Regions from separate parts of the Homo sapiens genome. Here region 2 is linked to region 1. The links come from fine-mapping of genetic effects on gene expression. A gene starts in region 1. The other region holds a variant in brackets. All regions are shown on one strand. Distances are between the middles of the regions.

Region 1 (4,394 bases):
CTTCATAATAGTGTAAGGCAGTTTGTGGAAAACTTATTACCGTCATTTTACACTTTACTAAATTCAGGCTAAACCATCATCAAATTAACCAGAATTAAGATTAGGGCTCAAGTCTTCTGACTTCTGGTCTAAGTTGTTGGGTGTTTTGGGTTTTTTTTCCCCCTGCATAAGGCCATCTTCCACAAACTACATATGCTTTCTTAAATCTTCTAAAACTTTCTGAAACTGGAAGCTTTACTTCTGAGGATTATATATAGCATTTCATATACTGACATTGGATATAGCACAAGAGGCTGAGTAACATTTATTTTAGAAATAGGTGTAATTTAATAATGAATGTATTTGAAGTGTGGATTAAAATGAAGACAACACTTCCCTTTTGCATAGAGGATAAAACTTGCAAAAATAAAATAAATGCCCATTGGTATATTACAGAGGGATATTTCACACCATTTCACTTCTAGAATGGATCCTTCACTCTTCTTTCATTTTTAAATGGATTTTAATTATTAAATCATAGTCTAAGGGAATTACCATATGTTAATTTTTTAGTGAGTTGAGGCTTACTCAAATGTATTTTATTCCTATATCAAATGAAAAGTATTTTTGCATTAAGATTTTTGCTGTATATTTCATTTCAGACTTTAAGAAAACAAATATTACATGTAAGTATATCTTAAAAGCGCTCTAAATGCATTTTTAAATTGAGTAAATATAGTTAAGTACTAAAACAACAAAATTCATTTGTCCTATACTAACATGTACTATAGCATATAGCTCAAAAAGTTAGTAGAATACTGGGAAATTGCAAGTAACTGTATGATGCCTATTGCTTTACCTGGGACAGCTGACCAAAAAATGTTTCAGGGGTATGTTAGAGCTAATTTCATTACAATTCCCGGTGACTAACACCACTGATAGAGACCATAAAAGAGAAGGTGGCTCTTTTGTCCTATGAATTATCAATTAGATCTGCTTCTGTGGTGAAATTTGTTAGCTGAAAATTGATGGCTGAAACCTTAGGATTTACCCCTGTCTTTAAGCTCCTACAGCGAGGTCTGTAGACCAGAAGCCTGTACTGAACTCACACCACAAGGGCAGCGCCAAAGACAAGATGCAAGCGCTGCAACAGCAAGTTATATAACAAAAGAGAACCGAGGACATCAGAACGTGCTCCAATGATACTTTGTATCTTCCTGGTGCGCAAAAATGTAAACCGGCCTTCCTTTATGGTTTACATTGTACCCCTGCACAACGGTTTGCTATCGCGTAATTTGGGAGGTGACACATATGAAATTTGAGGGTGTGATTAGTCTTTAAAATAATAGTTTTGGTATATATTTTAAGCACTTCTAGCGACCCCCCCAACACACAAACACACACACACACACGCGCACACACACACACACACACGAAGAAGATGCTAAGGTGGGCCACTGCCCCGGCTCTGGCCAGCCGCATTTAGAGGGGAAAAGGACAAATGGCGCTATTTCTTTAAGCTTGGTGGGGGGAAATCTAAGTTTGTTCTTTAAAAAGGGCGAAAGTTCGCTAGGACCACAGGGCCTTCGGCGAGAGCGCAGGCAGCTTCGTGTTGGCACCTTGGGGATCTTCTGGGCTGCCAGAAGCTCTGAGCTTGCAGTTGCACCTAAACCGCCGCTTTCGCTACTTATATTTGCGGTAATGTTAGGAAGCAAAGTATCATCAATCAGAGAATCTGGTAGCCATTCTCTCTCTTTGCCCTGTGTCCCAGCTTGTGATTCTTCTAAGTTCCATCTCCTTTGCTGCGTGCAGATCCTTGGCTTTGGGCGCGCTTCCTCTTCTGCACTTGGGCCACCGCGGGTTGGCCACCTGGGCTGAACTCATCCCATCCTTGCTTTCCCCCATCCCTATACCCAGCGGCGAGGGCAGCCTCACCAGCCCTTGCCCCGGAGGTGAATGTGTGCCTGGCTTTGACTGAGACAACTAGGACCCCAGAAGCCCAGTGACATCAGAAAAGAGGCTCCTGGGCACTAGCACTTCCCGCAATACGCTCCAGGGCTGTAGGTGCAAAACGGAGCTCTAACTTCCCTCCAGCTAATCGAGAGGAAAATACAGGGCGCGTCACAGTGGCCTCTCCCGCCTAGCCACGCGCAGTGAAATTTCCGGCAATCGGGCCAGCTAAGACACGGGATTTGCACCGCAGCCTCTCAGCTTCTGGAGCCGGAGCCGAGCGCTCCCGGCAGCTTCTCCAATTTCTCTCCTAAAGTGCGAAGGGAAAAGCCCCGTCTGCTCCACGACTGCAAGGCCGGCGGATCTGGGAGCCGCGCCCGGCTCCGGAGGACTCGGCGGGCCCGGGGCTCCCCGGCAGCGGCTCCTCTGCTAGGGGTTAACAGCAGCCCCCGCGGCCGGGCGGGCGCGGACGCTTCCTCTCCACCCGCCCGGGAACGTGGATACCGCGCCCGCAGGATGTTCGCCGGCTGGGACCGGCAGTCAGGAAACATGAGAAGGCCTCGCTATTCCTGTTCCCGGGCGGCGCGCGCCGGGCTGGGTAAATAAAGCCGAGACGACGGCGGTGGCGGTGGTGAGCGCGCTGGAGCCCGCGTGGAGAACATGCGGCGGGGATGGGAGTGCGCCTAGTCTCGAGGCGGGAGAGCCAGCCGCCCTGCAGCCGGCCGTCGGCCCCGCAGCCACAGGTACAGCCCCCGCGTCGCCGAGTCTCAGCCGGCTGCGGCGGAACGCCAGGCTCGCTCTGGCCCCTGCGCCCTGGGCGCCGGTGCTCTCCCGCCCTTCCCCCAACTTCCCTCCAAGGTCTGGTGGAGAGGCGCTCGGGTAGCGGCCAAGGCTGGCCCAAGGGTCTGCGCGGAGCTTGGGAGCCCACCTGGCCGCGCCTCCTTTGCTTTAAAATTATTCGCCGGCGTTGGGGGAGGGGGACACTTCTGCAGGGAGTGACCTCCCCGGCCACAGTCTGGAGTGAATCGGGGTAAGTGATTTGAGAAGAGGCGCGGGTGGCCGCGCGCGGGAGTCCTGGGAGGGTCAGCAAGTGTGGTTCACACGCCCCCGGACCCCTTGCGACAGGACAGCGCTCGGACCTTTGCCATCGCTTGCCTCTGAGCCTGCTGCCTGCAGACCTACAGCGCGCCGGGTGTCTGTGTCTGCGATCTCTGCGTGGGCTTGGGGCTGCCGGGGAAGTGTCCGAGGTGGCTAACCTCGTGATGACTTCGCTAGGAAAAACACGTCGTCGCATCTAGGAGGACGCGCTGGGGTGGCTCGGAGAAGGCCGGGCCGGGGAAGGGTGTCTTGTACAAATAAAGCAGCATGAACACACATCCCTAAGGGCATGATTTTAAAAGAAAACACCAACGCGAGTCTTGACTGTAGAACAGGGGCTGCAAGCACGAAAATTCTCTTTGACACTTATCACCGAGGCTATGTGCACACCCCAGGCACGTACCTGTCTGCGCGGGAGGACGCAGTCCTAGGGGACACACGACATCCAGCAGAGGTCTGACTTCACTTCCCTACGAACACAGACCGTAGCCGTCGTTTGATCGCGGTGGTCACGCGTGGTCCTAAATGTCACGCGTGGCCTCTGCTGCGGTGGCCGAAGGGCGGGGCGGGGGCGTTGGCGAGTGTGGGCGCTTGGCGAGGCAAAGGGTGTGTGTGTGTGTGTGTGTGTGTGTGTGTGTGTATGCGCGCGCGCGTGTGTTAGTGGAGTAGCAGCCCATGCCGCGGCTGGACGGGCAAAGGGGGCGCTGGCAGCGAAGCTGAGGCCGCTCGGAGGAAACGGGAGCTGTCCCGAGGCGCGAGGCGAGGAGATGGGGCGGGCGAAGTCCGCCGCGCGCCTTGGGGCTGTAACTCTGCGGCTCCGCGGCCGCGCGGACTTGCTCCTGACGCCGGTGCGCGGCAGGCAGAGGCTCAGGGCCTCCGCGACCCCAGAGGTGAGCTGCTGGCTCTCCCCGACAGTGGCAGCAGTGGCCCGGGAGGTGCGCCGACCAAGCTGCCTCCTGCCTTGGGCTTCTGACACCTTTACAGCCTCTGAAAGGGTCCCCGGAGACCCCAGAGAGAGGCGGGTGTCGAGGGGCTACGAGCTCGCGGCTGACACCCGCGCTGCGGAAGAGAATGGCACTGATTGAGGGCTCTGGGGACCTGGGTCCTGGCGCCTTGGACCTTAGGACCATGCACTTCCCGGGGCGCGTTGGGGGATGATAGGAAGATTCTGGGAGAGAAGGGGGAGAAGTGGTGCTTTCGTCCTGACGCCACTTAACTTTTTCCTGTCCTTGAACCCAACCTCACCCCGGGGGACCTTGGCGGACAGAAGATGCGGGGGTTTCAACCAAACCATCCACGATCTAGAAAACACGAAAATCCCCCAAATCCCGGTATGGCCTGGGACTCATGAGCTGGGGGGTCTTGTG
Region 2 (4,394 bases), 72 kb after region 1:
AGCACTTTAGGAGGCTGAGGCAGGCTGATCACGAGGTCAGGAGTTCGAGATCAGCCTGATCAACATGGTGAAACCCTGTCTCTACTAAAAATACAAAAATTAGCCGGGCTTGGTGGCGGGTGCCTGTAATCCCAGCTACTTAGGAGCCTGAGGCAGAAGAATTGCTTGAACCTGGGAGGTGGAGGTTGCAGTGAGCCGAGATCACAGCACTGCACTCCAGCCTGGGCAACAGAGCAAGCCTCCATCTCAAAAAAAAAAAAAAAGAAAAAGAAAAAAGAAAATTTGATAACCATGAAATTATAGAATCATTGAGCCAGAAGCACCCCCAAGATTTTCTAGAACCCCCCCCTTTTTTATTTTAATTTTCTTAGAGACAGGGTCTTGCTCTGTTGCCCAGGCTGGAGTGCAGTGGCACAATCACTGCTTACTGCACCTTCACCCCCCTGGGCTCAAGCAATCCTCCCACCTCAGCCTCCTGAGTAACTGGGAATATAGGTGAACACCCACCATACCCAGCTATTTTTATTTTTATTTTTAGTAGAGATGAGGTCTCACTATGTAGCGCAGGCTGGTCTCGAATTCCTAGGCTCAAGCAATCCCCCGCCTTGGCCTCCCAAAGTGCTGGGATTACAGATATGAGCCACTGTGCCCAGCCAAAGCTCCCTGATTTTATAGTTAGAGAACTGAATCCCTGACATTGTGGGAGGTCATAATCTGCCCCCAGGTTACACTGCAAGTGGGTAGTAGGGCAAGGCCAGAACCTGGCCCCAGGTACAGTCAGCACTCTTTTCCTTATGCTGTTTGTCTCCTGATCCAAAAGGCCCAATTTCTCAGAGTAAATAACTTCAGATTTTTGTGTATCTATGAGAGCTACCTTTTATTCTTTACTACCCACTGTCATCTTACTTCTGCCCCTTTGCAATTTTTTTTGCATCTTAATATAAACTGCTTTATCTTTATTAAAAGCGAACTAATTTTCAACCATATTTCCTGAAGAACTTTTACTTCTGGTCATTAGTGATGAAACTCCTGAGATGAGAAAAGAAAGGAAAAACATAAAAATAATTGAATTTTTGCTTTTCTTTACAGACACTCTGGAAAACGGATCCAATAAGGGTGAAAGGTGAGCAAAATGTTCCCATTGGCCGTTCCTGCTTTTCAGCGATGGCATTTTCAATGCAAACTGCAGTGAGTTTGATCGTTTACTTTCTGTTTTGCTTAACTCCAGCGCAGCTAACAGAAAAGGACCAAGCAAGGATGACACGTATTGGAAGGAGATCAACGCAGCTATGGCCTTAACAAATCTTGCACAGGGAAAGGACAAACTGCAGGGAACTACCAGCTGCATCATCCAGAAGTCGTCCCATATAGCAGAAGTAAAGACTGTCAAAGTGCCGCTGGTGCAGCAGTTTTAAGAGCTTGTTGCTTTTCAGATCCAATGGATGTTCTTTCCGGTGTTTTCATCAACCCTCATCCTAAGAGCCGAAGCAGGGATGAAAATGACTCTCTCCCAAACCTCTTCTTATTTTTAATTATCCCAAATATATCATTTAGTTGCTTCTATAAAAGACATATAAATTATAAAAAACTCATTTTAATCAAAAATATTAACTTATTTTATGTTACTCAAACTATGCATAAAACATCTGCATTACCATTACAGTAAGTGCCTTGCTTCCCGACAATAAGCTCCAACGTGGGCATAGTTGAACAAGCTATGCCTCAAAATGCCAACGCCATATGCTTATTAGCCTGTGTGCATCATTCCAGACGGGCCTAATCATTCCAGGACTGAAACCAGAATCGCTGAAAGCCCTTGAAATACATTCAATAATTCATATGTTAAAACTTGGATATCTGTTCAGCCCAAATGAAATCTTCCTTTTAAAAAACGTCTACA[T/G]TATTGAAAATTGTTCAATGTGCTTTTCAGAGTGACGGTGAGAATTTTATGCATGTATCTTGCCTGCATATTTGATATGTTACAAACTTCCAAAATTCAAGGTGCAGCGATCCACAGAACGTTGTACATTTAAGAAGTGATTCCTTCAAGCTAATTTAAAATTTCATTGAACACATGGTGACCAGGAAAACTTTTTTTCAAGCACTGTTGGAAAGCACCACAAAGCCCTTTAGAATTAATCTGGATTTGTTTCTCAAGTTCTGCTGAAGTTTAAAAAAAAACTTTATTATACAAATAACTCAAAATTTTCCTGTGTAAAACTAAACCTGTAGTTTTAAAACATAATCCTGTTTGCATTAGAGCTCACTGTCTTTTTGTGATGGAAACTGTGTTCGTATGGAATGACTAAAAATCTTTTATTTGGTTTGTTTCAAATTACAATTGCTGATGGACAATTTGTATTGCAGCGAGAACAACAGAATGAAAGAAATGTATCTCTGTGCGGCTATACATATACATACATAAAATTGATTTTTAAATTTAAAACATATGGAAAACAAAACATTGAACAGTTTGAATTTTGCCAAGTTGGACATTAAAGTAAAAATGAAGTGAAATCATGCATTGAAAGAAAACATTTTGTTTCTAAATTAGTCTACCATTGAGTGAGAATAATCAATATCAAGAAAGAAGACTATCTTTCTCAACTAAACAATAATATTCCAATCAGCTTGGGAAGACCTGAAACTTGAATAAGCAGTGGAAATGCCAAATATAACAGAGGGTATGTGCTACAGAGAAGTAAAAAGGGTTTGACTTTTTATGATGGGATTTTTTTTTTCTGGGTATGTAATCTATTTTTTTTTTAAACTGGAAAGCATTTTTGTCAGTGTGAATGAGGGTCAATAGTGCAGCCAGTGGTGACATTTTTCTTTATTTTGCAAAATGCTTTTAAAACCAAAGGCTGCTCTAGTTGATGGACAGTATCAGTCTTGATCTAAATTGTAGGACACTTTTTCATGTAACATAACATTTGGGGATTGGGTTTATTTAGTGTAATGAAGATAATTTGATATAAAAATATTTTGTGTATATATATATATTTTTACTTTGTTTTCTAAATTGCTGTTTGCAGTAACAGTAAGCGCAAAGCAAAATATATAAGTTATGACTGTATGATCAGATGAAGTATGAGTTCTTTTGGTTTGCATCCTTAAATAGTTAGAGATCTCTGATAAAAACTTTGGAATCTTTGCAAAACAATACAAAAATGCCAAAATGTGAGCATGTCAATGAAAACTAAAGACAAATACTTCACTCTTTTTCATACTATTATAAGTTATTCTGGTATTAAATATGTTAATAAAAGTGTTTTTGTTTTGACATATTTCAGTTAAATGAATGAATGCTGGTTGTATTTTATTTGAATGAGTCATGATTCATGTTTGCCATCTTTTTAAAAAAATCAGCAAATTTCTTCTATGTTATAAATTATAGATGACAAGGCAATATAGGACAACTATTCACATGATTTTTTTTAATACCAAAGGTTGGAAGATTTTATAATTAACATGTCAAGAAGACTTTATAGTAAGCACATCCTTGGTAATATCTCCAATTGCAATGACTTTTTAATTTATTTTTTCTTTTGCTGCTTTAACATTTTCTGGATATTAAAATCCCCCCAGTCCTTTAAAAGAATCTTGAACAATGCTGAGCCGGCAGCTGAAAATCTAACTCATAATTTATGTTGTAGAGAAATAGAATTACCTCTATTCTTTGTTTTGCCATATGTAATCATTTTAATAAAATTAATAACTGCCAGGAGTTCTTGACAGATTTAAAATAAAAGTTAATTTCTAGACCTCGATGATCGTATGGATTTTGTTTTCCTTTGAGAGCTGACCAGGTAGATGAAGCAGTAGAACAGACGGGCCCATTATATTCAGCAATTCTCCTTAGACTGTTAAGGGATATGATATGGGAGTGCTGCATTTGTATTAGGTTTGAATTTCATCACCTTAGGCCACCAATCCAGCTTTCAAAGACTGAGGAAAAGGGAGTGTGATGCCGACTATTAAAATACCTAACTTTAAAATGAACATTTTCAGGTAATACCTTCTTTCCCTCACTAATACAATTAGCATTATTTGTGGTGTGCTCTGCACTGGAGAGAAAACCTTGGCTTTGAAGCTAGACAGAACTACCTTTGAATCTCAGCTCTGTCCCTTACTACTTAGTCATTCTTATCTAGTTTCTTCATCTGCAAAGTGGGAGTAAGGAGCTATACCTTGTAGGGTTTGCACTAAGATTGAGATAAAATGCAATACATAAAGTGCCTACCTCAGTGTCTGTCAGATAATAGGTGCTTGGTAACTGGAACATATTATTGCATAGTTACAATTCCTCTATTCAGGCTTTATGCACAAGAAAGTAGAAATATTTAAAATAAATGGAACATAAGACATGGGTAGTTTAATGGACAGCTGTAGAG

Alleles and levels. Positions count from the first base shown, and alleles are read on the strand shown. Sizes are in standard deviations (SD) of each study's normalised expression.
For the expression in prefrontal cortex of the gene that starts at base 2,560 in region 1, allele T in region 2 goes with a higher level than allele G (small effect, 0.19 SD a copy in ROSMAP).

The links. PIP is the estimated chance that this variant, and not a neighbour inherited with it, causes the effect. A credible set is the group of variants that fine-mapping cannot tell apart.
Region 2: its variant is the best candidate, but not a certain one, in a credible set for the expression of MKX in prefrontal cortex (ROSMAP, PIP 0.64).

Annotation. Positions count from the first base shown.
Region 1 is chr10:27,743,985-27,748,378 of GRCh38, reverse strand. It overlaps MKX (mohawk homeobox), which reads left to right and starts at 2,560. Exons shown (of 7, transcript NM_173576.3): 1 at 2,560-2,672. MKX-AS1 (MKX antisense RNA 1) reads right to left here and starts at 3,764. Exons shown (of 2, transcript NR_121652.1): 1 at 3,431-3,764. RefSeq lists an enhancer at 2,479-3,069.
Region 2 is chr10:27,672,250-27,676,643 of GRCh38, reverse strand. MKX (mohawk homeobox) reads left to right here. Exons shown (of 7, transcript NM_173576.3): 6 at 1,090-1,123; 7 at 1,229-3,770. The coding sequence ends at 1,415. Among named protein-coding and RNA genes, the nearest start is that of MKX-AS1, 70 kb to the left of the region's middle. The variant T/G (reference allele first, on the strand shown) is at 1,901.